Linked DNA regions of Homo sapiens. The protein of the gene in region 6 purifies or fractionates together with the protein of the main gene of each other region. This does not show direct contact. Each region holds a gene or a part of one and is shown on either strand. Other genes may lie near its edges.

What was found.
Region 1: the proteins of OR10H1 (region 6) and KCNT2 purify together in Homo sapiens (affinity purification with mass spectrometry; one large-scale study listed by BioGRID and IntAct). This does not show direct contact.
Region 2: the proteins of OR10H1 (region 6) and SNX14 purify together in Homo sapiens (affinity purification with mass spectrometry; one large-scale study listed by BioGRID and IntAct). This does not show direct contact.
Region 3: the proteins of OR10H1 (region 6) and DNAJC18 purify together in Homo sapiens (affinity purification with mass spectrometry; one large-scale study listed by BioGRID and IntAct). This does not show direct contact.
Region 4: the proteins of OR10H1 (region 6) and LRIG3 purify together in Homo sapiens (affinity purification with mass spectrometry; one large-scale study listed by BioGRID and IntAct). This does not show direct contact.
Region 5: the proteins of OR10H1 (region 6) and ADCY3 purify together in Homo sapiens (affinity purification with mass spectrometry; one large-scale study listed by BioGRID and IntAct). This does not show direct contact.
Region 7: the proteins of OR10H1 (region 6) and MARCHF6 purify together in Homo sapiens (affinity purification with mass spectrometry; one large-scale study listed by BioGRID and IntAct). This does not show direct contact.

What each region holds. Positions count from the first base shown.
Region 1 is NC_000001.11:196,598,441-196,601,940, reverse strand, and holds part of KCNT2 (potassium channel subfamily T member 2), read left to right. Parts: intron 1-3,500. UniProt on the Homo sapiens protein: Sodium-activated and chloride-activated potassium channel. Produces rapidly activating outward rectifier K(+) currents. Contributes to regulate neuronal excitability.
Region 2 is NC_000006.12:85,513,859-85,517,358, reverse strand, and holds part of SNX14 (sorting nexin-14), read left to right. Parts: intron 1-2,729; coding exon 2,730-2,853; intron 2,854-3,124; coding exon 3,125-3,289; intron 3,290-3,463; coding exon 3,464-3,500. UniProt on the Homo sapiens protein: Plays a role in maintaining normal neuronal excitability and synaptic transmission. May be involved in several stages of intracellular trafficking. Required for autophagosome clearance, possibly by mediating the fusion of lysosomes with autophagosomes.
Region 3 is NC_000005.10:139,412,615-139,415,525, reverse strand, and holds part of DNAJC18 (dnaJ homolog subfamily C member 18), read left to right. Parts: intron 1-1,253; coding exon 1,254-1,378; 3' UTR 1,379-2,911.
Region 4 is NC_000012.12:58,886,005-58,889,504, forward strand, and holds part of LRIG3 (leucine-rich repeats and immunoglobulin-like domains protein 3 isoform 2 precursor), read right to left. Parts: intron 2,959-3,500; coding exon 2,815-2,958; intron 2,469-2,814; coding exon 2,325-2,468; intron 1,929-2,324; coding exon 1,785-1,928; intron 887-1,784; coding exon 806-886; intron 1-805. UniProt on the Homo sapiens protein: May play a role in craniofacial and inner ear morphogenesis during embryonic development. May act within the otic vesicle epithelium to control formation of the lateral semicircular canal in the inner ear, possibly by restricting the expression of NTN1.
Region 5 is NC_000002.12:24,826,238-24,829,737, reverse strand, and holds part of ADCY3 (adenylate cyclase type 3), read left to right. Parts: intron 1-1,576; coding exon 1,577-1,836; intron 1,837-2,129; coding exon 2,130-2,192; intron 2,193-3,500.
Region 6 is NC_000019.10:15,812,865-15,816,894, reverse strand, and holds the start of OR10H1 (olfactory receptor 10H1), read left to right. Parts: upstream 1-1,230; 5' UTR 1,231-1,340; intron 1,341-4,016; 5' UTR 4,017-4,030. UniProt on the Homo sapiens protein: Odorant receptor.
Region 7 is NC_000005.10:10,405,695-10,409,194, reverse strand, and holds part of MARCHF6 (E3 ubiquitin-protein ligase MARCHF6), read right to left. Parts: intron 2,094-3,500; coding exon 1,993-2,093; intron 1-1,992. UniProt on the Homo sapiens protein: Endoplasmic reticulum membrane-associated E3 ubiquitin ligase that plays a critical role in mitigating endoplasmic reticulum stress, the regulation of cholesterol and lipid homeostasis, and ferroptosis.

The DNA.
Region 1 (3,500 bases), on a different chromosome or scaffold from region 6:
AGATAGTAAATAGGATAAACTGTATCCATACTGGTAACAATATGTTATAATCATCTGCTCAACTTCTTTTTGAAATTAGGATGGATATGAATGTCAGACATATTACCAAAGAAATAAGACTTTTAGATAAAATATTTAGGAATAAAAATGCAGTATGGGGCAATTTATCTTTTACATTGTTTTGTAATTTTATGTGGCAATTCTAAAAAAAGGAAGTAGGCTAACATACAGGGTCAGAGAATTGGTAAGATGGCTATAAAATTGGTGAAACACCATCATAATAAGTGGTTTAAAATAATCACCGTATCAGTAGAGCCAATTCTGTTTTTGCTAAATAACATCTCCCTACAGAAACTTCTGACAGTTGTGGATATATTGGTCTTTATCATTTCAAAATTTAAATGATAGCCTGCAGAAACCCTTAATAGCATTGACATCGTTCTTTCACAGACATTAAACACCCTACTAATTATCAAGAAGCACACTAAGCTCTAGGGATAAAATTGTGAGCAAAATAGACCTAGTTCAGATGTAAATGATTTTACAGTAGTGGAAACCGATATTAGATTTAAAAATACATATGCGAACTTAATTACAGTTGTGCTAGGCTATAAAGGAGAATGGCACAATGTTATGAGAGAGCATGATTGAAGATGAGCCTAGTCTGGCAGATGAAATAGTGGTCTGGGGAAAGTTTTCAAAGAAATCTGTGTTGAGATCGAGGTGTAAGGATGAGAAGATGCTGGTAGATTAAATGGGAAAAGAATATTTCAGGCTAAGGAGCAGCTTGCCTAAAAGGCCAGTGCTGGGAGAGAGCAAGGCATTTTCAAGGAACTGAGGAGAGTCAGGAGGCATTTGGAAGTATGGGTCTGGAGTTCAAGAGACCAAACTAGGCTTTACATGTGGCTTGTTACTGAAGCTATCCATAGCTATGGAGAAAATCACTTATAGAAGAGAAGGATGGGCCTGGAGCACTGACACAATTTCATACACAGTACAAAGTCAAAACTGGTTGGGTGAGGTTGTAGATGGTAGGATACAAGTGAAGGTGGGGGACTTTAAGTCCCTTCTCATCTTGAGATTTCTGCCTATGTAGAGTAGAGATGGATAAGCAAGGCCAGAAACTTCTTTAGAAGTAGAAGTGCTGGTGGTGTGTGAAATTTTAAAGGTATCAGCAAATGACCAAATTTTATGAATAAACAAATTGTCAATATTGAGCATAGATACTGTTTTACTCTTGCAATTAAATAAAATATAGAACACTGTTAATCTGTCATTCAGTGTGATCCATATCAAGTATGGATATCTAATATAAATGTATTTCTATTGTTGTGCTCCATAACATAGAAACCAAGAAATTCACCACACATCATAACCATGTTTTACTTCGTCAACCAAACTACATCATTAGTTTTTGTTGCCTAAAACAATCACTGATAGTGACAACTTTTCTGATATTATGTGTTTTGTCACTGTAGTTTTCTTAATTAAACGCTCATGTAATAAAAACAAAAACTTTGTGCTCTTAGGAGCTGTGGTTCCTTTGCATGCCTTGCAGCCAACCACCTCCATCTCTCCAGCTTACAGCTTTGTTTATGTGTATTTGGCTTCACAATTTGTCCCAGAAAATTCGGTATTGGCGGACCCTAAGACACAGGGATATTTCATTGCATACCTCTCATGTAGAAGAGTGATCACGTACATGCTTGCAGCAGATGAATAGAAAACTAGGCTCCATGGAGGCCAGAAAACACCGTGAAATGATGTTGGATTCTCTGTAGCTGGTCATATAAAAGCAGAGGAGTGAATTAGAAATTTCTGACCCTGACTCCTTAATAACTAGGTACAACTAGAACAAGCTGACTCATACATAAAGTCTTACATGTAGTATAATTTCAGATTAAGGAGGAACCATTGCATATACATGAAAAAATAAATCATTAACGTAAATGAAATAAATTAGTTCAGTGATATTAGACTTATTTGTCTCTCTTGACTGGGAAGTGGAGATGGCTTTGGAGTTTGGAGGTAAAGAGTTGAGAACCTGGAAAGCCCTAGTTGCCTGAAAGAAAGAAAAATATGCTCTTGGATGTGAGGCAGAAGATAATCAGCAAAAGAGGGAGACTAAGGACAGTGAGATTTCTCTCCACAATTTTGCCTTAGATTGAACGTATTTATCTTAGTCTTTTCTGAGAAATAGAAGCAGTGAAGGAAAACAGAAACAGAACCCAATTGTCAAGCATGGCTGATGTGTAGGGGACAATCGCCTGGCAGCACATCTCCAACTCTTTGACCTCTTTCCTCTTTAGAGTCTTAGCTGTACCTCTCTTCCAATCAGTGCTTTAGTAGTCTTAGCACTACTGCAATTATGCCACGGCTTTAAAGGGTGAGAATCATATCCCTCTGTGTACACATTCCTTGAATTCAGAGTTGTATTACTTCCAATTTTCACAGTATGTAAATATGGGTAAGAAATGGACTTTGCATATAAAGCCAGAAAACAGTAAATCTAAGAAACAGTGAACTGGTTGTTCCTGGCTTTCTTGCACTGGACTTACACAGAATCATAATGATGAATTGTTATTACAAGGGCACACTTAGCCATCTTGTAAATCACTGTGTGAATAGGGATAAAAGTGGATTAACACATTTCAACCTCATTTAACTCCCTGTGGGAAAACTTGTAGATTGTCCACATATTATAAACAACTAGTTGTTAACAACAGGGTCCAGATGTCTAGTTTAATAATGGACAGCCTGCTGTCTCAAGTCTGTCAAAAACTGAAATACTACTCTGTCCCCTAGGGATCAGATAGGGTGATCAGCAAGCTGCACAGGTTCCATTAAGGAGTGATGGTAATGACTTCTGTCACTGCCACACCATGTGGTGATTACATTGGCAAATTATAGATGGAAGCTGTCAGTATTTTGTTTCCATTTCTTACCTTTCTCTGCTCAAAAGAGTTTATGTGCTATTTCATCCATTTCCAATAAAAATGCAGAAGATAAGGTGAAAATGTATGATAATATTGAATATAGTATTTATCACAGCATCAGAGAACATTTACCAACTACTTAGCATGTGTCAAACATTTTTCTAAGCATGTTACATGTATTACGTATTACTTTATTTAATCTTTATACCAATTCTGAGAAATTCTGTTATTTTTCCCATTTTACAAATGAATCAACCAAGGTACAGAAATATATCACTTGTTCAAAGTCACATGACCTGTAAGAGGTAACTAGAATCTAATTATTATGCCTATTCACTATGTTTACAACATACACAAATGTGATTTAATGCTATTTAAATAATAGGAAGAACAAAATTCAAACAAATTTAAAGGCTTTTGAAGTCAGAAAAGTCATACAGCTCTTGCATCCCCATAGGCCAGTGTTATAGTGACTTGATTAAAATAAGTGTTAAGGAATTTTTGAAGTTGGTCATACTTTCTGAAAGAAAAACCTCTTTTGCCTCTAGATGTAGAGCATGGTTC
Region 2 (3,500 bases), on a different chromosome or scaffold from region 6:
CATGCCTACGATTGAGTGCTAGGCACTGGGAATATAAGGATACATTCCTTGTCCTCAAGAAGGTGTTTAGTGCCAAGGTGTAGTGCCCAGCATGGGGAGCTATGGAAGCTCAGAGGACCTCTATCTTTTATTTTTGTTAATACTCTGAATGGTATCTTTAATATTATTAATGTTTTCATTTTATAACTTGTATATATAGATAGAAAATTTTTATTTAGTCGTCTTGCTAGACTTAACATTAGTTTTAGTAATATCTGGTAATTCTTTTATATTGACACAATTGTTGCAGATGATTGCAGTTTTGTTTTATTCCTGACTAGGACTGCTATATAGAAAGGAAATTGTTTAATTATTTCACCATCGAATAGTGTGGTGTAGCTCTTTTTGTATTAATAGATAACCTTTATAAGATTAAGGAAGTTGCCAGGTGCAGTGGCTCACATCTGTAATCCCAGCACTTCGGGAGGCCAAGGTGGATGGATCACTTGAGGTCAGGAGTTTGAGACCAGCCTGGCCACCTTGGTGAAACCCTGCCTCTACTGAAAATACAAAAATTAGTCAAGCGTGGTGGTGGGTGCCTGTAATCCTAGCTACTCGGGAGGCCGAGGCAGGAGAGTCGCTTGAACCTGGGAGGTGGAGGTTGCAGTGAGCTGAGATCGCGCCACTGCACTTCAGCCTGGGGGACAGAGCAAGACTCTGTCTCCAAAAAAAAAAAAAAAAAAAAAAGATTAAGGAAGTTTACATTCATGTTTATGGGTAGAATATAGCCTATAATTTTTCTTTCTCATTCTGTCCTTGTTAGGTTTTGGTATCAAAGTTTTATTAGCATTTTTTATTTTTGGTAGACTTTTTATAAATATTTGATAGAGTTGGTAAAGTCATCTAGGCCTCCAGTTTTGTTTGTAGGAAGATTTTTTATAACCAATTTAATTTCTTTAACAATTACAAAATTCTTCAGGTTTATTACTTCATGAGTCATGAAGGTTACAAAATATAACCTATTGAACTCATGCTAGGAATGCTAGGAATTTGTCAGGGAGAAAAATAAGAGAAGAGCTTATAACATGTAAAGGTGTTTATTAAAATATTGTTTACATAAGTGAAAAATTGGAAACAACATGAAATTCTAACATTGTAGGAATGATTATTTTAAGGAACATCTATTCAAGGAGTGTTTTGCAGCAGATGAAATTGTGCTTATGAAAACTATAAAGCAACATAAAGATATTTGATATGGTGCTAAATGAAAAAGTAGGATGTGATATTTTTTGAACCTCATTGATTTGTGGCTATGTATATAGAGAGTACAAGTTAATATACAAAAGTTTAATAGTAACACTATTAGGTGGTTGAGTTTTAATTTAAAAGTTTAAATGCCCCTTTGCTCTGTGTCACTTTATTTAGCCTTAGTGATTATTGTCAACAGATGTAATAAACTGTATATCTCTTTATTATTTCAACTTTTATTTTAGATTTCTGCTTAAAAATAATGCAAACCGTGCTGAAAATACAGAGGGAAAACAAAATTGAGTTGTTTTTCCCGTTTTCCAGACTTACTATATAATATCACTGTTTTTTAGTGAAAAAAAAAATTACACTGAAAATTTAAAAGAGTAGAGGGAATAATATATCAGAAGGGAGAGCCCTTTTCCTATTTTTTGGGTTGGGGAAAAATGTTTTAAGTATGTGTCTGTGTTAATAATATCTGACATAAGAGCCAATAGAATATATGGTCTTTGTTCTCAGGATACTTTTCTAGGAGGCTTTTAAAAAATTCATCTTCAGGTAAAATCGAATATACTTTCCTCCACAGTCTCCTTACTTCTCTTCCCTCTCCCCTCCCCTCTTTCTCCCTTTTCACAGAGTCTCACTCTGTCACCCAGGCTGGAGTGCAGTGGTGCAATCTCTGGCTCACTGCAACCATTAATTCTTAATATCTTGTTTTAGTTCCCCCCCACCCCAACATTGATTAGGCCTTTGTGGGCTTTGAATATTGTCCAAATAAATTTCACCTAACGCTGGATTTTTACCTCTACTTATAGTGATTTATAATCTTTAAATCATGTTAGTGTTTTTTTTTTTTTTTTTTTTTTTTTGACGGTCTTGCTCTGTCACCCAGGCTGGAGTGCAGTGGCACGATTTCGGCTCACTGTTACCTCTGGCTCCCAGGTTCAAACTATTCTCCTGCCTCAGTCTCCCAAGTAGCTGGGACTACAGGCACGCATCACTACACCTGGCTAATTTTTTTGTATTTTTAGTAGAGATGGGGTTTCACCATGTTGGACAAGCCGATTTCAAACTTGCGAGCTCAGGTGATCTGCCTGCCTCCGTCTTCCAAAGTGCTGAGATTACAGGCGTGAGCCACTGCGCCTGGCCTAAATCATGTTAGTTTTAAAGTTAGCTATCAATAATATATTTGTACATCTTTTTATGTTACTTTGCTTTTGTGGTATGTAAAAACAAAGGGGTCTTTAATGGATAATGAATTATCTACTGTAACTAAAATGAATATTTTAGTTTTTATGTAATATTTTTGGGGAACATGTATTTTTTATTGCAATTCGGGGCATAAATGGGGAATTTTAGAAGCATATATTAACCTATCTAATATTCTGTTTTGATTGGAAAAAGTTTAAATGCCTTTGCTGTGTGACACTTAATCCTTATTGATTATCGTCAGCAGATGTAATAAACTATATATCTCTTTATTATTCCAACTTTTATTTTAGCTTTTCAATGATCTGTTTAAAAATAATGCAAACCGTGCTGAAAATACAGAGAGAAAGCAAAATCAGAATTATTTTATGGAGGTGATGACTGTAGAAGGAGTCTATGATTACCTGATGTATGTAGGTAAGATCTAAGTGGTTTAAGACTTGTTTTTCATTCATCTTACTTCTTCTGTGATGCAAATAATGATCTTGAGTATTGCCCCATCATAACTGTCTTTTTAATTGAAGATACCTTTTATAATAATTCAATACGATTGGCCTTGATCATATTAAAGTTGCTAGTGTTTACAAATAAAATATTGACCATGGTCATTTGTGTTTTCTACATTGGCAAATTTCAAAAATACCAATTCATCTGGAACAATGAGGTATCCCATTTGATCCTTTCTCAGGACGGGTAGTTTTCCAGGTTCCTGACTGGCTTCATCATCTCTTAATGGGAACTCGAATCCTCTTTAAAAACACCCTGGAAATGTATACTGATTACTATCTTCAGTGTAAACTAGAACAGCTATTTCAGGAGCACCGTTTGGTCTCACTCATAACACTTCTCAGAGGTTTGTATTTTCTAATGTGTTTGTTTCATATTTTGTGTACTCTATGATTTTAATTGAATCTAAAGAGGAAGAAATCTTGTTTTGCTTTGGTTTATTAGTATTTCTACTATGAGGAAATCCTTTGTGTATAAATAGATGAAAATTCCAGAAATATTTCTTTTTACTCTTTTTTAGATGCTATATTCTGTGAAAACACTGAACCTCGCTCTCT
Region 3 (2,911 bases), on a different chromosome or scaffold from region 6:
GGGAGACCCACTGCTTGCCAAGCAACTGCTGGGCTAGAGCCCAGGCTGTGCGGCCTCCATTGTAGAGGGAGGGTTTTTATGCATATCCATCCCTCACTCTGGAGTCCTGCACTTAATCTGCACTTTGGGCCTTACTTGGGGGTAAATAGCATCATTGTGCACAGAAATGCCAGACAGTGTTTTGTGTTGATAGAAACGTATTCAGAAAGCAATGCCCATTGTTCCCCCTGGCTAAATAATAATTCCGTTTCCAGGCAGTTTGCTGATTAATCAGACAGGTGTCTTTCGTTCCACCAAGAAAAACAAAATCTGTCAGCAAGATGATTAAGAATAGATAGGCATATTTCAAAACAATTAAAATAGCATTTTTACAAGTCTGGTCCTTTAAACATTGAGTAGCTGCCTGCTGTTGGAGGCTTTCAGGAAACACACACCACATCCAAGCATGCCATCCTGTTAATACGCAATACGTCTCTAAAGGTGCTCTTCAGGCATTCCTCCCTGAATATGTCTGAAACCTCACAAAAGAATAAAAAATAGAGGCAACCAAACCACTGTTGAGTCAGGAAACACAGCAGAGATTATATTCTGGTTAAAAATAGAATGACCTTCTCCACCATAAAGAGAAAATGAAATTAATTTAGTCAAGGAGACAAAGGTCACCGGATCCAGATGATTCAACTTTTAGAAAGGCCCAGCTGCCTTTGGCCTTTGAGTTGGGGACCCTACGTGTGGTGAGGGAATGAACAGCGCCAGTAGTGCCCTGGCCTTCTGTGGACGCACACCCGGCAGCAGTAGGCTCTGTGTGCCTTCGCACATGTGAGTTATGATGCAGCAATGCAGGAGAAGAATAAAGCAGCTGTCTGTTTCAGATGACAGGAATAGGCCACTGGACTCCATTCTCTCCCAGCTGCTGTTGGAATCCCGTTTGTAGGAGGCTATAGGGTGGTCTCACTGCACATGCGCAGGTTTCCTAAGTCTGGTGCCAAATGTTTTCTTGGTAAGAACTAAGTCCAGTGCTTTTATAAGAGAGCACAGATACTGTTGGACTGCAGGGTCACAGGTGCCCTTTAATCCTCCACACCTGGTCTAGTACCTAAGACGTGTTTTGTGAATAAATGACTAAATGTTTCTTATATTTAATTGTAAGAAAAAGCTTGAAATGAAGTAAAAGGAGCTTTGACTCCAGAAACATTGAAATGAAACAAAGGAGTTCAGCTCTTGATGAATTGGTTACCTCTTTTATCTTTCAGAGTCAGAGCTGACAAATTTGGCAGGATTATACAGAGATGAACGATTGAAACAGAAAGCAGAGTCGCTGAAACTTGAAAACTGTGAGAAACTTTCCAAACTCATTGGCCTACGCAGAGGTGGCTGAGAGGATAATGGTCCTACGCAGGGCTGGGGTTTTGCTACTTGTTCCTATTTATGTTCCTGATTCCATTTTATAATACAAAACTAGGTAATGATGAACACTTTACTATTTGCTAACTTCGTTGGTTGGGCAGAGTGGCAGGAGCATGGGCACGAGAGCCAGATGTGTCTTCACAGGATCCTTCCTGGGGAGTGGCTCCAGGGACCAGGAGTAGTTCATCTAAGTTAAATTAATGGCAAGGCATTGGATTCCGTCTCCCTGCTCCATGCCTACCCTGCCTATGTGAATGGAGTTCAGGGCATCCCAGAGCAGATCCATGCTTTCTTCCTTCTTCCCTTCTTCAGTGAAGTCTTAAGAACCAGGCATTCCTAGGCTTAGCCAAAGCTTAATATTAGTTATTTACACTGTCTACCAAGAATTATACCTCTCCCTTCATTAGAGTCATCATCTCCGCCAAGATTTAGCCTTTGGAACATGTTCCTGCCCAGCTTTCCATTTTCTAGGGGAATATGGAGAAATTTAAACTATTGTAGTCAATAGTTTTCTATTATTCCAATCTCTGCTCAGTTAGTAGCATTAGCAAACTGCCTAATTTGAGATTCCTTTATTTCCTTAACCCTCTCTCCTTTAGAGAGTCCAGAAATTAAAACTACTGAGCAGCATCTGGAGGCGGGGGCCAGGGCGAAGGTATAATGCAAGACCGAGCCTCATCTCCTCCACGAAGCCTCCCTACTCCATCATAGAACCCAGAGAATGTCCCTTCGGTCATTTCCCCTCAGTATCATCATTGGTGTCATCGCACTTAGGCTGAGTTCCTACATCCCACAGAGGCAGATGGTCAGACCCAGGAGGAGGCATTGCCAGCTCTCCAGGCTGTTTGCTCAAGCCTAGAGATAGAGGAGACAGATCCTCTCTCCTTGGATATGGGGGTCTAGCTTTGGCCCCAGCAGCCACTTTGTTTAACCCAGTATCCTATAGTTTGTGATTTGAGATGATTTTTCATTCATTCAACATTTATTGAGTGCCTACTATAAAAGCAGGGGCTCTCACACATATTTTCTTACTTAAACCTCCTCACAACTCTGAAGTAGATGTATTATCCCTGGTTCTATGAATGAGAACATTGGCCCAGAGAGGATGACCCAGGTCTTGTAGTGGCAGAGCAAGACGGTAGGCTGAGTGTCAAGTAGAAAGTGGGAGAGCATCCTCATGTCTCAGGTGATTCTAGCCAGACTGGCAAAGCAGAACCTTTCCCGAGGATGCCTCCGTCCTCCCCAACCCCATGACCCCTCATCTTTTCTGTGGCAATCTTGCATCTGTTCAGGACAACATCCCTGCTGCTCTTTAGGAAGCAGGACCCTGTCTAACATAAATTCTGTACACAAAATAAGAGGTCCCTCACAGGCAGGCAGCCCTCCACTGGTGACTAGGAAGAATTCAGTCACTGCCTGGGCTGTGTGGTTCTGGGCCTTCCTGTGGAGCTGAGCTGCCTGAATTATCATGACTCTGAACTTGGAAGGATCATTAAGTGACTGT
Region 4 (3,500 bases), on a different chromosome or scaffold from region 6:
TTTTCTTCAATTAAACAATATATCCTGTAAAAATGTGTCCATGCCATCTATTTCAATAATGTAGTCGAACATGGTTTTTGAAGCATTCAACAAAGAGCCCAACAAAAATAGGTATTCAGTAAGTCACTCTGCTGATTAAGTTAAATCACTGTTTTTCAGAGTCCTTTTAGGAATAGGTAGAGACTTTATTTCAAGTAAACTGTCTCAGAACACTAACAAAGCAGATAATAGTGAACGTTTTCTCCTTCCTCTCCTTCTCTGTGGATACCTTCCATCCATAGGAGTTTGGGACTATAGGGAGCTGAATTTGAATACTGCTGGCTTAACACATGTAATTTGACCATCTGCAAGACCATTTTATGGTTAATTATAAGATGTTTTCATCCTGTTTTGCTTGTAACCTACCACAGCATTATCAGTGGCTACTAGATTACTTCATTAAAAAAATTCCTACGGGGACAGTACAACATTGAGGATTTCAAGATGTGGAAGTGCCTGCACTAACTTTTACGCAATGATAATTCCAAAAGTGTAAGCCCTCAACATAGATGAAAATTATTATGAGGATATTAAAGTAAATTACACATACTAAAATGTTGAATAAAACACTTTCACCTAAGGAAGAAAAAGTTAATAATATACATCTTGCGCAACAGCAGGCATTTGGGGAGAGGATCAAGGGTGGTAACCAGATTAAGCACTGATTTCTCATCTCTTCATGATGTCAACTTGTATAGCTGACTTCAGTGAAGACAAAATTTTTAAATCAAAGAGTGAGCTAAATTATGAGGCAATTCATACTCACAGTCGCCTCAGTTTGTCAAGCCCAGAGAAAGCACCATTCATGTCTTCAATAGTCCAGGAAATTTCATTGTTCTTCAGATCCCTAATTTTAAAAGAAGCATTCCCTTTAGAGTGATAAGCTCAGAAAGCCTAGTATCACCACCCAGGTGGCATATCATTTGTAAAAAATTTCTCATAATTCCCCACATTATCTCCACCTCTCTCAAAATAATAGAAAACTCTTTTTCTCCAACTTACCTCTTACACCCTGCCTGATTCCCTCAACAACATTTTAAGTTTTTCCCTAAAATCCGAAAAAGCTGACACTGGCCCTATTAATTCCTCTATCAAAATGACTACATTCTGAATGATCCGAACAGTCTGAAAAATACATTAAACTTTAAAACCACTCTTCCAACCACGCATGCAGAAGTTCGCCAAAGCATACAGTATGTCTTTCAATTACGTAATGCTTCAAATAGCGAACAGAGCAAAAGTTTCTGACAGAGCAAAAATCAAAAGCCCATTGCACAACCTTAAATTACCATTTGAGAAATTTTTCAAAGGTCAATTAATTTAACTCCCTTTTCTTTCTCTTAGGACAGAGATCAGGTTGAGGATATAACTGGCATGATAAACAGTATCTTCCTTGCCCTTTGTAGACCTTTTTGCTCTAAGTAATTTTTAATCTGTATTTTACAAAGAAAAACTTAGTGGACTTAAAATTGTTTCCCTCTTAAGCAGTTACCAATTTCCTGGAGATCCTGAGAAGGTTCACTGTAATCACCAAAACAAACTGATCACTGTCCTTTTTAATCCCTATACGAAACACATATGGATGAAATGGATCCATTGTAATCAAACTGATCTGGGAAAGATTAAGATACTACTTCTGAGGCTGTATGCATTTCCTTGACAACAAAGGAAATCTGCTAGGAGAAAAGTGGGCATATTTAGGAACCAATTACGTTCGAGTACTGACAGCAAAACGTGTAACTTACAAAGTCTTTAAACTGGAAAGCCCCCGGAAGGCACAATCAGCAATGTAGCTGACTCTGTTGTTCCCAATGTGCAGTGTATTTAGTAAGCTTAGGCCAAGGAAGCTTGAATCATCTAACCTTGATAAGTGATTGAAAGTTAGGTCCCTGTAAAGAAAAAAGAGAAAAGCAATAGCTTTTATTTTTCAATTCAACACAATGATTTGTTTTCCAAAAGACAGGTACTGTATGAGCTACACTAATCCTTATTTTTAAATTCTGCCTTAATAATATCCAAGTAAATATTTCTAATATCAGTAATTAAAAAAATACGTTCTCTTTACTTGAAAATAACCATCATTGCTTTTGCCAACGTGACATAGAACTGCAACAGTAGAACTGGCTTCAACTTATCACAACAAAAATAAGACTAGGTTGCATGTGAAAAAAGCTGTCACCTTGGAAACTTTGTTATGAAAATTTCACAGATCAGTGGTAAGAAGCTCATGCCCTGGCATGATCCCTGCTCTCAAACCTGAGGAGAATAAATAAAAGGCAACTCACAGCTCACTGAGCTTCTGGCAGAACTCCCAGGCATCAGGGCTGATCCTGTTGATGGCATTTTGGCTGAGATGAAGTTCCTGCAGCATCAGCAAGCCGTAAAGCCAGCCTTTGGTAATCTCTGTTAGGTTGTTATGGTCCAGCTGCCTACATTTACAGTAAGAATCAAAAGCAGGATCAAAACTTCATTATCTAGTCTCTTCAAAGGGGACATATGATTACAACCTATTACAGATTCCTATTGTTATTAGATGTTTAGCTTTTGTTATATGAAGACGTCAGCAAAAAAATACTATATAGTTTATACTATACTAAATTTAGGTACTTATAAATTATCGATCACATTACCTGAATCAAAACTGAATACTGACTTATAAATAAGATTGTGGATGATGAGATTTTAACATAGGATTTCACATAAGACCTGCTGAATGTACACTGAGCATTCTATGATCATACTACCTCAGTAGGAACTGTGATAACCCACACTTACAAAATTTCCATGTTGCTCAGCCCCCAAAAAGCTCCATCCATAAGTTTCGTTACTCCATTTCTTTGCATTTTCAGAGACTTCAGAGCACCAAGGCCTTGGAATGTCAGTCCATCTACATTTTTAATCTTGTTTCGGTTCAATTCGCTGCATTGAGTATTACAAGAGTTAGCTTATATGACAATTAAATTCTGGAGGTAGTAATAAAATGTGTCATTACTACAATATAGTTCAACCAGTCAGTGTTCAATTACATACAGTGTTTTCAGTTTCTAAACATTTTTATTGCAAAGAATTTCAATTTGTTAAGCAGGCAGTGAATTTCCTACTGAAATGTGTCATGTGTTTTTGGAATAATAAAATACTGAAACTAGACTGCACTTTAATTTCTAAAGTCTTGTCCACTCAGTATAGACACAAACAAATTAAGATTTGTTTTTAAACAATCCAGAATGAGATTATTAAATGTTACACTAAAACATGAGGTCTATCAAGGAGCTGGGCCTCAAGTTTATCCTGTACAATCTGTTTACAAGTTGGTTACTATCTTTCACCCTTCTTTTTAGGTTTAATGCTTTCTCTTTAAGGCAGTAGTTCTCAGCCTTGGTTGCACACTGGACGCAACCTGGGAGTTTTAAAAATTTCTGAAGCCTGGATCTTACCCTTAGAGGTCCTAATATAATTGGTCT
Region 5 (3,500 bases), on a different chromosome or scaffold from region 6:
CAATTGGAGCACACGGTGCCGGGCGCAGTGGCTCACGCCTGTAATCCCAGCACTTTGGGAGGCCAAGGCGGGCGGATCACGAGGTCAGGAGATCGAAATCATCCTGGCTAACACAGTTGAAACCCCGTCTCTACTAAAAATACAAAAAAATTAGCCGGGCGTGGTGGCAGGCGCCTGTAGTCCCAGCTACTCAGGAGGCTGAGGCAGGAGAATGGCGTGAACCCGGGAGGTGGAGCTTGCAGTGAGCCGAGATTGTGCACTGCACTCCAGCCTGGCAACAGAGTGAGACTTTGTCTCAAAAAAAAAAAAAAAAAAAAAAAAAAAATTGGAGCACACAAATACAACCAACATGGAGACTTATTCTGCCAGTGGTATAAGTGAAAAAGCTCCAGGGCTGCAGCTAATCAGAAGTCCAGTGGGGGGCCGGGCGCGGTGGCTCACACTTGTAATTCCAGCACTTTGGGAGGCTGAGGCAGGCAGATCACTTGAGGTCAGGAGTTTGAGACCAGCCTGGCCAAGATGGTGAAACCCCGTCTCTACTAAAAATACAAAAATTAGCCAGCCACAATGGCACGAGCCTGTAATTCCAGCTACTTGGGCAGCTGAGGCAGGAGAATCGCTTGAACCTGGGAGGTGGAGGTTGCAGTGAGCCAAGAATGCACCACTGCACGCCAGTCTGGGCGACAGAGCGAGACTCCATCTCAAAAAAAAAAAAGAAAAAAAAGAATAAGTCTACTGGGAATGAGGAGTTAGGGGCTCCAGAGCCTACCTTGGCCAGGGGTTGCTGGTGCCCACTACCCAGGGAAGAGAAGCCCCAGGCCCCCTGCATGTCACAACATGCCTGGAACCTGGCACCCAGGTGTGGAGGTCACCACTGCATGGGGTCCTGGACACTGTACAGGACACCTGGAGATGCTGTCACTCATGGAGGGGTAAAAAGCTAGGGAGGTGTAACAACTGCTCATGCTAGAATGACATGGCGGGAATCGCGCAAGCAAGACAAGGTTGCCCTGTGGGTGAAAGTTACAAAAAGGGGGGGTTGATTCCGGTTCTGGATGCGCTTTCTCCCGGCCGCATCTGCCCAGTAGCAGAACCAGTAAAGAATCCAGAAGGCAGTGAACATCCCCCCAATGGAAGGATTTGGGCAGAGACTAGCTGTCATCACGGGGAGGCTGTGAGTGGGGCTCATGGTCCCGTGGCCCCTCCTGAAGCAACAGTGTGATATGGGGAAGAACATGTTGGATTTGAAGCCTAAAGACTTGGCTCCTACTTTTGGCTTTTCTGCTTGCTAATTGTGTTTGGGCAAATCTGGCCCGAGTTTTCTGTACAATAGGGACAGTACTAAAAATACTCGAGAGAGTTTTTGTGAATGTCAAATGAGGCAACGGCGAGGCTCTTAGCTGCAGTTACTAACTTTCATATGATTAGTCCCTGGTAAATTTCCCCATCTTTCCCGGTATTTCTGGGGGAGCCGCGGGAGGTGGCAGCTGAGCGTGCACTACCATGCACAGCCCTCTGTGACCAGCACCTGCTGTTCTCTTGAACGTGTGTCCCTGCCCGCCGTCCTGGCCTCCAGCTCAGCTGTCTCCAGTACTACACGGGACCCAGCAATGCAACGGCAGGGATGGAAACGGAGGGCAGCTGCCTGGAGAACCCCAAGTATTACAACTATGTGGCCGTGCTGTCCCTCATCGCCACCATCATGCTGGTGCAGGTCAGCCACATGGTGAAGCTCACGCTCATGCTGCTCGTCGCAGGCGCCGTGGCCACCATCAACCTCTATGCCTGGCGTCCCGTCTTTGATGAATACGACCACAAGCGTTTTCGGGAGCACGAGTAAGATGAAGCGTGACTGGGGATCTGTATTGTCTCCTTCCTCCCGCCCGCAAAGTCCTCAGTTCAAGCTCATGGGCCTGTGCTGAGGTGGCTTTCTGCCACTAGGGGTCCTCAAAGGCTTGTTCAAGAACCAGTTCCTGGCTGCTCACAGACGTATCACTGTTTGGCTAGGACCTGAGAATAGATTCTTCCCATTCTCCCCGAGTGGAGGACTTGGGATACCCCGGTGCCTGGCTGGGCATCAGGCTCTTGTTCCCAGATGGGGCCTGACTGTGCTGTTATCTGTCCAACAGCTTACCTATGGTGGCCTTAGAGCAGATGCAAGGATTCAACCCTGGGCTCAATGGCACTGACAGGTAAGGGCCACGGCTTCCCCTCCTGGCCTGCACTCACAGCCCTTCTTCTAGAGACAGGAATATAACAGGCCCAAGCCCCGGGATCTCACCCTCCCGGGAGGCACGTGACCTGATACGTGCAGGTTAGAGAAGCTGGCATGGGTTCCTCCAGGAGGGCTGCAGCAGTGCAGTGAGGAGGGAAGGAAATACCAGGTGGATGGCAGCTGCATGTAACTGGCTGGCAGGACAGACAGGCAGCAGGAAAATGAGGAGGGAGGAAGACGCTTTGGATTTGGACCTGGCTTCTGAGCCTGCAGCAGGCAGTAATTCTCTGTGGGTCACAGGCAGGTCCGTTTCCATGAGTTGCAATTTCATCTCTTGAGGAGGATACTGAACCAGAAGTTCTCTAAGGTCCCTGCCAGTGCCAAGGTTTTAAAATTTTATGATTCCATGACTTGAACAGACCTTCAAGGAAGTTTAGAAATAAAAAGATGACCTAATAGAAGAGGGGTAAAACCTGCATAGCCCTTAGCAAAAGAAGAACTCTAAATGGCCACTAATAAATGGCACTCAAGTAATCAAGGAAATGCCAGTTACACCCTAGTGAGATACCATCACACACGTACCGGTCCAGATAACTCTGACAATATCAAGTACAATAGTAACTCTTACACTCCTGGTGGGAGTATGAGTTAGTACAACCGTGTTAGAAAATATTTTGATCTATTTAGTAAGGTTGAAAATAAACCTGTGTCCCAGCAATTCCACTCCTACATACACACCCACGCAGACGTGTGTATATGTGTATATATATATATACACACATCTTAGAGAAATTCATGCACATACTCATGTCCCAGGATATATGTATGAGAATGTCCAAAGTGGCACTGTTCGTAATAGACATACCCCCTCCCCCAAAACAAATGAAAACAACCCAAATGACATCAACAGGAAATGGATACATAACTGGTATATTCATGCAGTGAAATACCATACGGTAATGGAAACTAACCACAGCTCCACATAAAAATATGTATGAACAAGGTAAAAAGCCATGGTGAGATTGTACCCCAGTCCCATGGCTATGAAATCCCATCACTGATGTCTCTTGCTTCTCCAAATTCCTGCATGGTTGTAGCTACCTCTGTGATCAGTCAGGCAATGCAGTGTTTCTTAAATACCTGGGGAGCAGCCCTGATGTGAATACCAGGTGCAGCCAGGAGGGGCCAGGGGTTGCCTGGCTGTTGGAGAGGAGCCCAGTGAGTTAAGAAAATTTTACTGCCCGGGGGAGCCCGACTTGATGTGAAAGGGCCTAAGGAGCCGGGG
Region 6 (4,030 bases):
GGCTGGAGTGCCGTGGCTACTCACAGGGGCAATCATAATGCATCGTTATATATAGTAGTATATAGTCCCATTTATATGAAATGTCTAGAATAGGTAAGTCCATAGAGCCAGAGCCAGAAAACAAATTGGTGGTTTTGAAGGACTGGGTGGGGTAGGGGAGTGGCTGCTAATGGGTATTAGGTGATGAAAACATTTTGGAACTAGACAGAGGCGGCGGCCACACAACATTGTGAATGCATTCAATCCCAGGGAATTGTATACTTTAAAGTGGTTGATTATTTTATGTGAATTTCACCTCAAAAGCAGAACGAAGCGAAAGCAACAATAATGCACAACAGAACTCTGATTTTATGGGTTTGCATTGTTTTCACATCCTACATGCTCATGAAGATCTGAAGGGATACCCATTAAATTCACCGTCACGATTGCCTGGCTGGCCATTGCATGGTTTGCTGCTTTGTATGTAGCATTTCAATTACATAATAAGAAGAAACAGGCCAGGCATGGTGGCTCACAGCTGTAATCCCAGCACTTTGAGAGGTCAAGGTGGGAGGATCCCTTGAGCCAAGGAGCTCAAGACCAGCCTGGGCAACAAAGCGAGACCCCATCTCTACAGAAAAATTAAAACTTAGCCCAGGTGTGGTGGCAAGCACCTTTACTCCCAGCTGCTCAGGAGGCTGAGGCAGGAGAATCATTTGAGCCTGGGAGGTTGAGGCTGCAGTGAGCCATAATCACACCACTGCACTCCAGCCTGGGCAACAGAGCTAGACCCTGTCTCAAAAAATAAAAATAAAAACAAATACGTGTGTGTGTGTTGGTTTTAAAAAATTATTTTAAAGGACATTTAGTTGGGCAAATGACCCAGTTGGAGAAGAATGAAGGTGACGGGGCATATCAAGGCAGCCTCTGCAGTCCCTGGGGGCAATGGCAGGGCTGCCCTCCTGTCAATTTCAACAGTCATGGGCCCAAACCCCAAATCTGTAGAGCACTAGACTCTGCTCAAGCTCTTGACAAGCTCAGGGAATTGACTCACCCCTGGCAGGCGGGGGGAATGGGAAAGTGAGGATACAGATTCCCTGAGGTTGCCTCCTCTCTGGCAGGGTCCCTGGGGTCCCAGCATCCCTGTAGCGGAGACAGAGACAGTAGGACCACAGCGAGGGAAGCCGGTGGGCAGGGAGTCAGGGAGGGATAAATAATCGCATTTGGGCTCAGTCAAGCCCCCGGCTCAGCTGGTGTGGCTGCTTGGTGCAGCCCACACCTGGTCAGCTCCCACCTGTGGAGAAACTCCAAACTAGAGCCTCCTACTGGGATGAAGCAGAAGCAGATGCCTGGAGTCCCAGGTGAGTCACCTCCCCTCTCAGCCACCTGACCAGGAGAGACCTGGGGAACCAGCACCTGCCAGGGACTCCAAGAAACCACCTGTTTATATTACTCCTTTAGCAATGTGAGTCTACAGGGCAGTGGGTGACAGGCAGAGGCCACTCACCACGTCTTAGTCAGTGTGCTGTTTGCTTAGCAGGACTTACCTTCTTCTATTTTTTTTTTTTTTTTTTTGAGACGGAATCTCGCTCTGTAGCCCAGGCTGGAGTGCAGTGGCGCAATCTCGGCTCACTGCAACCTCCGCCTGCCAGGTTCAAGCGATTCTTCTCCCTCAGCCTCCTGAGTAGCTGGGACTACAGGTGCGTGCCACCATGCCTGGCTAATTTTTTGTATTTTTAGTAGAGACAGGGGTTTCACCATGCTGGACAGGCTGGTCTTGAACTCCTGATCTCGTGATCCACCCGCCTCGGCTTCCCAAAGTACTGGGATTACAGGCATGAGCCATCGTGCCCAGCCAGGACTTGCCTTCTTTAGAGCTCCTGCTGCCTCATGAGGTAGGTCCCTTGGATGGGGGAGGTAACAGGTGCAGAGAGAAGACAGCCAATGCTCAATGTGACCCAAGGTGATGGTTTGATTTTAACCTCTCTTCTCGGTCTGTCCAGGCAAGAAGTCTACGGAAAAAGGATTGGGAAGAGGCGGAGAAAAGAGAGAAAGAGGATTCAGGGTTCAGAAGCTCCAGCCACCACCCCAGGGTGTAAAGAATCAGGGTGGGCCGGGTGCAGTGGCTCATGCCTGCAATCCCAGCACTTTGGGAGGCCAAGGTGGGAGGATCACTTGAGTCCAAGAGTTTGAGGCCAGCCTGGGCAGCATAGTGAGACCCTGTCTGTACAAAAAAATACAAAAATTGGCCAGGAATGGCAGGCACCTGTAGCTACTCCAGAGATTGAGGTGGGAGGATTGCTTGAGCCCAGGAAGTTAAGGCTGCAGTGAGCTGTGATTGTGCCTCTGCACTCCAGCCTGGGTGACAGAGGGATACCCTGTCTCTCTCTCTCTCTCTCTCTCTCTCTCTCTCTCTCTCTCTCTCTCTCTCTCTCACACACACACACACACACACACACACACACACACAAGGGAGGCGTCAATGGGAGCAGGTGGTGAGGGAATGGTTAGGAGCTGGGGATGAGAAGATGGAGAGAAAAGAGAGGGAAGTGGTGGCTTAAGTGGAAGAGAGGGGAGGCCAGACAGCTTCACTAAGAAGAGAGAGCCAGGATGGGTGAGAGTTAAGGCCAGATGGGGTCTCAGAGACAAGACAGGCCTGGCCCATGGAGTGATGCTGTCACCCAGGAGACACGTGACAACGTATAAGGACATTTCTGATTGTCGTGACTGGGGAGTGCTGCTGGTATCTATCTGGTGGGTGGAGACCAAGAATGCTGCTCAGTCTCCTGCAGTGCACAGGACACCCCTCTGAGAGAGAATGATTCGCCCCTAGCGTCCCTAATGCTGAAGGCAGGAAACCCTGCTCTAGGGATGTCTGTGGCAGGACTTGTCCACAGCCACGCTTAGCCCTAGAGTCTCTGAGTGGAGAACTGGCCCCACCGGGTGTTCCTGTCAGTGCTAGACAGTGGGCTTGCTTGCTCTCTCTCTTTCTTCTCACCTTTTTCTTCTCTTTCCCCTCTGTCCTCTCTTTCTCCCTACCTCTCTTTCCTCTCTCTGTTTCTCTTCCCACCTCCCTCTCTCTCCACTTCTCTCTCTCTCCCCACCCTTCTCTCTGTCTCTCTCTCTCTTTCCCCAACCCTCTCTCTCCCCACCTCCCACACTCTCTGTGTCTCTCTCCCCACTTCTCTCTCCCCACCTCTCTCTGTGTCTTTCTCCCTGTCCTTCTCTCTCTCTCTCCCCCCACCTCCCACTCTCTATCTCCCCACTTCTCTCTCTCCCTCCATCTCTCTCTCTCTCTGTGTGTGCTCTTTCCCCACATCTCTCTGTGTCTCCACCTCTCTGTCTCTCTCTTTCTCTCTCCCCACCTCTCTTTCTTTCTCTCCCCACCTCTCTCTCTCTGTTTCTCCCTCGCCTCCTCTCTCTCTCTCTCTCTCTCTCTCTTCCCCTGCCTCTCTCTCTATCCCCATCTCTCTCTTTCTCTTCCTACCTTTCTCTCTCTCTGTTTTACCTACAGAGGAACCCACTGGATGTTCTGCTGGTGAATCAATGCCCAGAAGCTCTAAATCCTCCTCGCTGCTATCCTAGTCCCACATCCACCATGGGTTTGGTTTTGTTTTACTTTTTAAAATTAATAGACTTTATTTTAAGAGCAGTTTCAGATTTACAGAACATAGAGCAGATAGATACTGCAGAGAATCTCCATATACCCTCTCTCCGCCTGCACACAATTTCCCCTATAATTAGCAACTGGGATTTTTTTTTTTTTTTACCATTAATCTGTTACAACTGATGAACCAGTGTTGACACATTGTCATTGACTGAAATCCACAGTTACATTAGAGTTCACTCTTGGGGCTGTACATTCTCTGGGTTTTGACAAATGCACAATGTCCTGTATCTACCATGACAGTATCACACAACATAGTTACACTGTCTTAAAAACCCTCTGTGCCCCACCCATTCATCCCTCCCTCTCACCCACTGGTCCCCTGGAAGCCACTGATCTTTTGCTGTCTCCATGGTTTTGATTTTTCCAGAATGACTGGACTAC
Region 7 (3,500 bases), on a different chromosome or scaffold from region 6:
TTACTATGTGTAGAGTAAACCTTTTATTTTTGAACAATCATGTTCCTATGCAAAGCATTAAGATCCAAATAAGAGGCTGGGCGCAGTGGCTCACACCTATAATCCCAGCACTTTGGGCGACCAAAGTGGAAGGATTGCTTGAGGCCAGGAATTCAAGACCAGCCTGGGCAATATAGTCAGACCCTGTCTCCACAAAATATTTTTTTAAATTAAAAAAAGAGAGACAGAGAGAAAAAGACCTAAATAAGACATGATTTCTGCCATCTGGGATAAAACAATACATATTTGTAAAGTAATGTAACAAATGCTATAAAAAGAAATACAACGATGAAGACAATTTTAAAGGATGGAATGATGGCCAGGCACAGTGGCTCATGCCTGTAATCCTAACATTTTGGGAGGCTGAGGCAGGCAGATGGTTCAAGCTCAGGAATTCAAGACCAGCACAGGCAACATGGTAAAACCCGGTCTCCCCAAAAAATACAAAAATTAGGCAGGTGTGGTGGCTTGCGCCTGTAGTCTCAGCTACCCGGGACGCTGAAGTGGGAAGATCACTTGAGCCCAGGAGGTTGAGGCTGCAGTGAGCCATGATCATACCACTGCACTACAGCCTGGGTGACAGAGCGAGACTCTTTCTCATAAAAAATAAAATAAAATTTAAAAACCTTAATCTGGATTTTAAAAAGAATATCAAATGCTTGCCACTCAAACGTGGACAAGCAAGTCATTGTAAACAGAGAGAAAAAGACAAACAGCTAAGTAATCAGGGGAGCCTCAATGGCAGTGTAGCACAATTAAAAGAATTGAAGTCAGTCAATGCTGAGACAAGACACTGAAAAAGCAACATGAGATTATGCCAAGTCTTGCATCTCATTCTAAATGGTGTATATATCACATAGATTACAGAGGAAGTGCTGCCAACTTTTAAACACAGGGGTAAAATAATCCAAGTTCTAGAAAATCTAGAGGCAGAGGTGTTGCGGATGAATGGAGAGCAAGAGGAAGGCCTAAATTAAGTAAGTGGCAAATCGAGTTAGATTAGTAAGAGATTTTAAGAAATTAGAATTGGCAATACTTTAAAGACTCATTAGAAGTAAACTTGAGGAAATAATCCAATTTGCCTGCAATTGGGATAATGACTGTGGGGATAATACAAATCCCTAAAGAGCATATAGGATGAGTGGTAAAGATTACTGGTAGTGGGAGGTTTCCGGATGGCTTTTTTTTTTGGGGGGGGGGGGATGCAGTTTCACTCTTGTTGCCCAAGTGGGAGTGCAATGGCACGATCTCGGCTCACCGCAACCTCTGCCTCCTGGGTTCAAGCGATTCTCCTGCCTCAGCCTCCCGAGTAGTTGGGATTACAGGCATGCGCCACCACGCATGGCTAATTTTTTTGTATTTTTAGTAGAGACAGGGTTTCTCCATGTTGGTCACGCTGGTCTCAAACTCCCAATCTCAGGTGATCCGCCTGCCTCGGCTTCCCAAAGTGCTGGGATTACAGGCGTGAGCCACCACGCCTGGCCTTAGCCCACTTAAGTTTTTAAAGCAAAAAAGATGTTCCATCTACAAGCCTTGTACCCTATTTTTAATAATTAAATGTGCAACTCTGGCTTTATTCTTTATAATGTGCTTTTCAAAATAAAGATGATGCTAATACACTCTCATTAGGTATGGTAAAACATTTCAATGGTGTGCAAATGCATACTTTATGCGCAGAAAAAATAAACATCTTCCTTTACAAAATGTAAGTACTAATGTTTATCTGATCTAAAATAAGGCAAAATTTATGCAAAGTGGAAAAGGTCCAGAAAATTTTTTAAACATTAAATTTAATTTAAAAAATAATAAAAATAAAGGTAAAATAAAGCAAAATTTAATTGTCAGATGATTTCCAGTAACTATAAGAAATGTTTTAAATGTTTAATGTAATCTGAACATCAAATCCCTAATAGAGATAAATTAGTAAAGCTATTCTAAATTTTTAAAACTTACCTGTAGAGCATGACATTGTATGGAAGAAAATTAGGCAGCACACTCTTAATTATACGTATAGGAAGCCAAAGCATCAGGAGGACAATGGAGCCAAAGACAATCTGCAGAAGGAAACAGGGTATGACACCACTATAAGAGTCAATCACTCCTGTGCAAGACAGGCAGACTTCTGAGCACACTCAAGCAATATGCAGTCCAGGCCTGTGTCTACTCAAAGCCCAAGCGGTTCCCACTCTACACATTATCTTTGAGTCATTTTGTATAAAAATGTTTTCCTAAGATGCCTGCCCCTCTTCCTGTAAGGACCTCCCATCTAGGACACAAATGCTAAAACGGAAGCCACAAAGGATAATCACCACTTGCTACCTAAGGAATGAGCTGGAAACTTAAAATGAGGAAGCAGAAATGCCTGCAACTTAATAAATCACTTGTAACCAGCTAAGACTTGCCCCATGTTAATGGCTACAAAAGCTTTCAAAGGACATAATGTTACTTTAAGAATTTTATTTTAGAAAAACTTAGATTTACGGCTGGGTGAGGTAATCCCAGCACTTTGGGAGGCTGAGGTGGGCGAATCACTATGTCAGGAGTTCGAGACCAACCTGGCCAACATAGTGAAACCCCGCATCTACTAAAAATACAAAAATTAGCTGAGCTTGGTGGTGGGCGCCTGTAATCCCAGCTACTTGGGAGGCTGAGTCACAACAATTGCTTGAAACAGGGAGGTGAAGGTTGCAGTGAGCCAAGATCATACCACCGCACTCTAACATGGGTGACAGACCAAAACTCCATCTCAAAAAAAAAAAAAAGAAAGAAATTAGATTTAACTATGTAATTTCTTCTTCTGGGTGGGGAAACTTTGACATGCTTCTGTTAAGAGTTTAATTTACAAGCCAGTAGTAAGTCTCCATTGCTTCAATGCAAATTAAACGTAATTCAGACAACCGTAATTTAGCAATCAATCATACCAGTGGTCCCCAACCATTTTGGCATCAGGGACCAGTTTCATGGAAAACAGTTTTCAACGGGATTTCAGGATGAAACTGTTCTGCTTCAGATCATCAGGCATTAGATTCTCATAATGAGCACACAATCTGGATCCCTCGCACTCGCAGTTCCCAATAGGGTTCCCGCTCCCATGAGAATCTAACGCCAAGGCTGATCTGACAGGAGGTGGAGCTCAGGTGGTAATGCTTGCTTGACCGCTGCCCATCTCCTGCTGTGCGGCCATTCCTAACGGGACATGCACCAGTACCCAGCCAAAACATGGGGGCTAGGGACCCCTGAATTATACTACTATGGAACAAGGAAGTATCTTCCTTTTAGTAAATATCTTTTTACATATTTATTTTAACAAAGTAACCAATAACACAGCTACTTGACAACTGAATACCACAGGCTTAGATAAATATATTATTCAATATACTCTATCAGCCTGCTTGAGAACTGGAAAAAAAAACCTAAACAAAACTATAGGTTAGCACAATTAATTCAAAAAAAAAAAACAA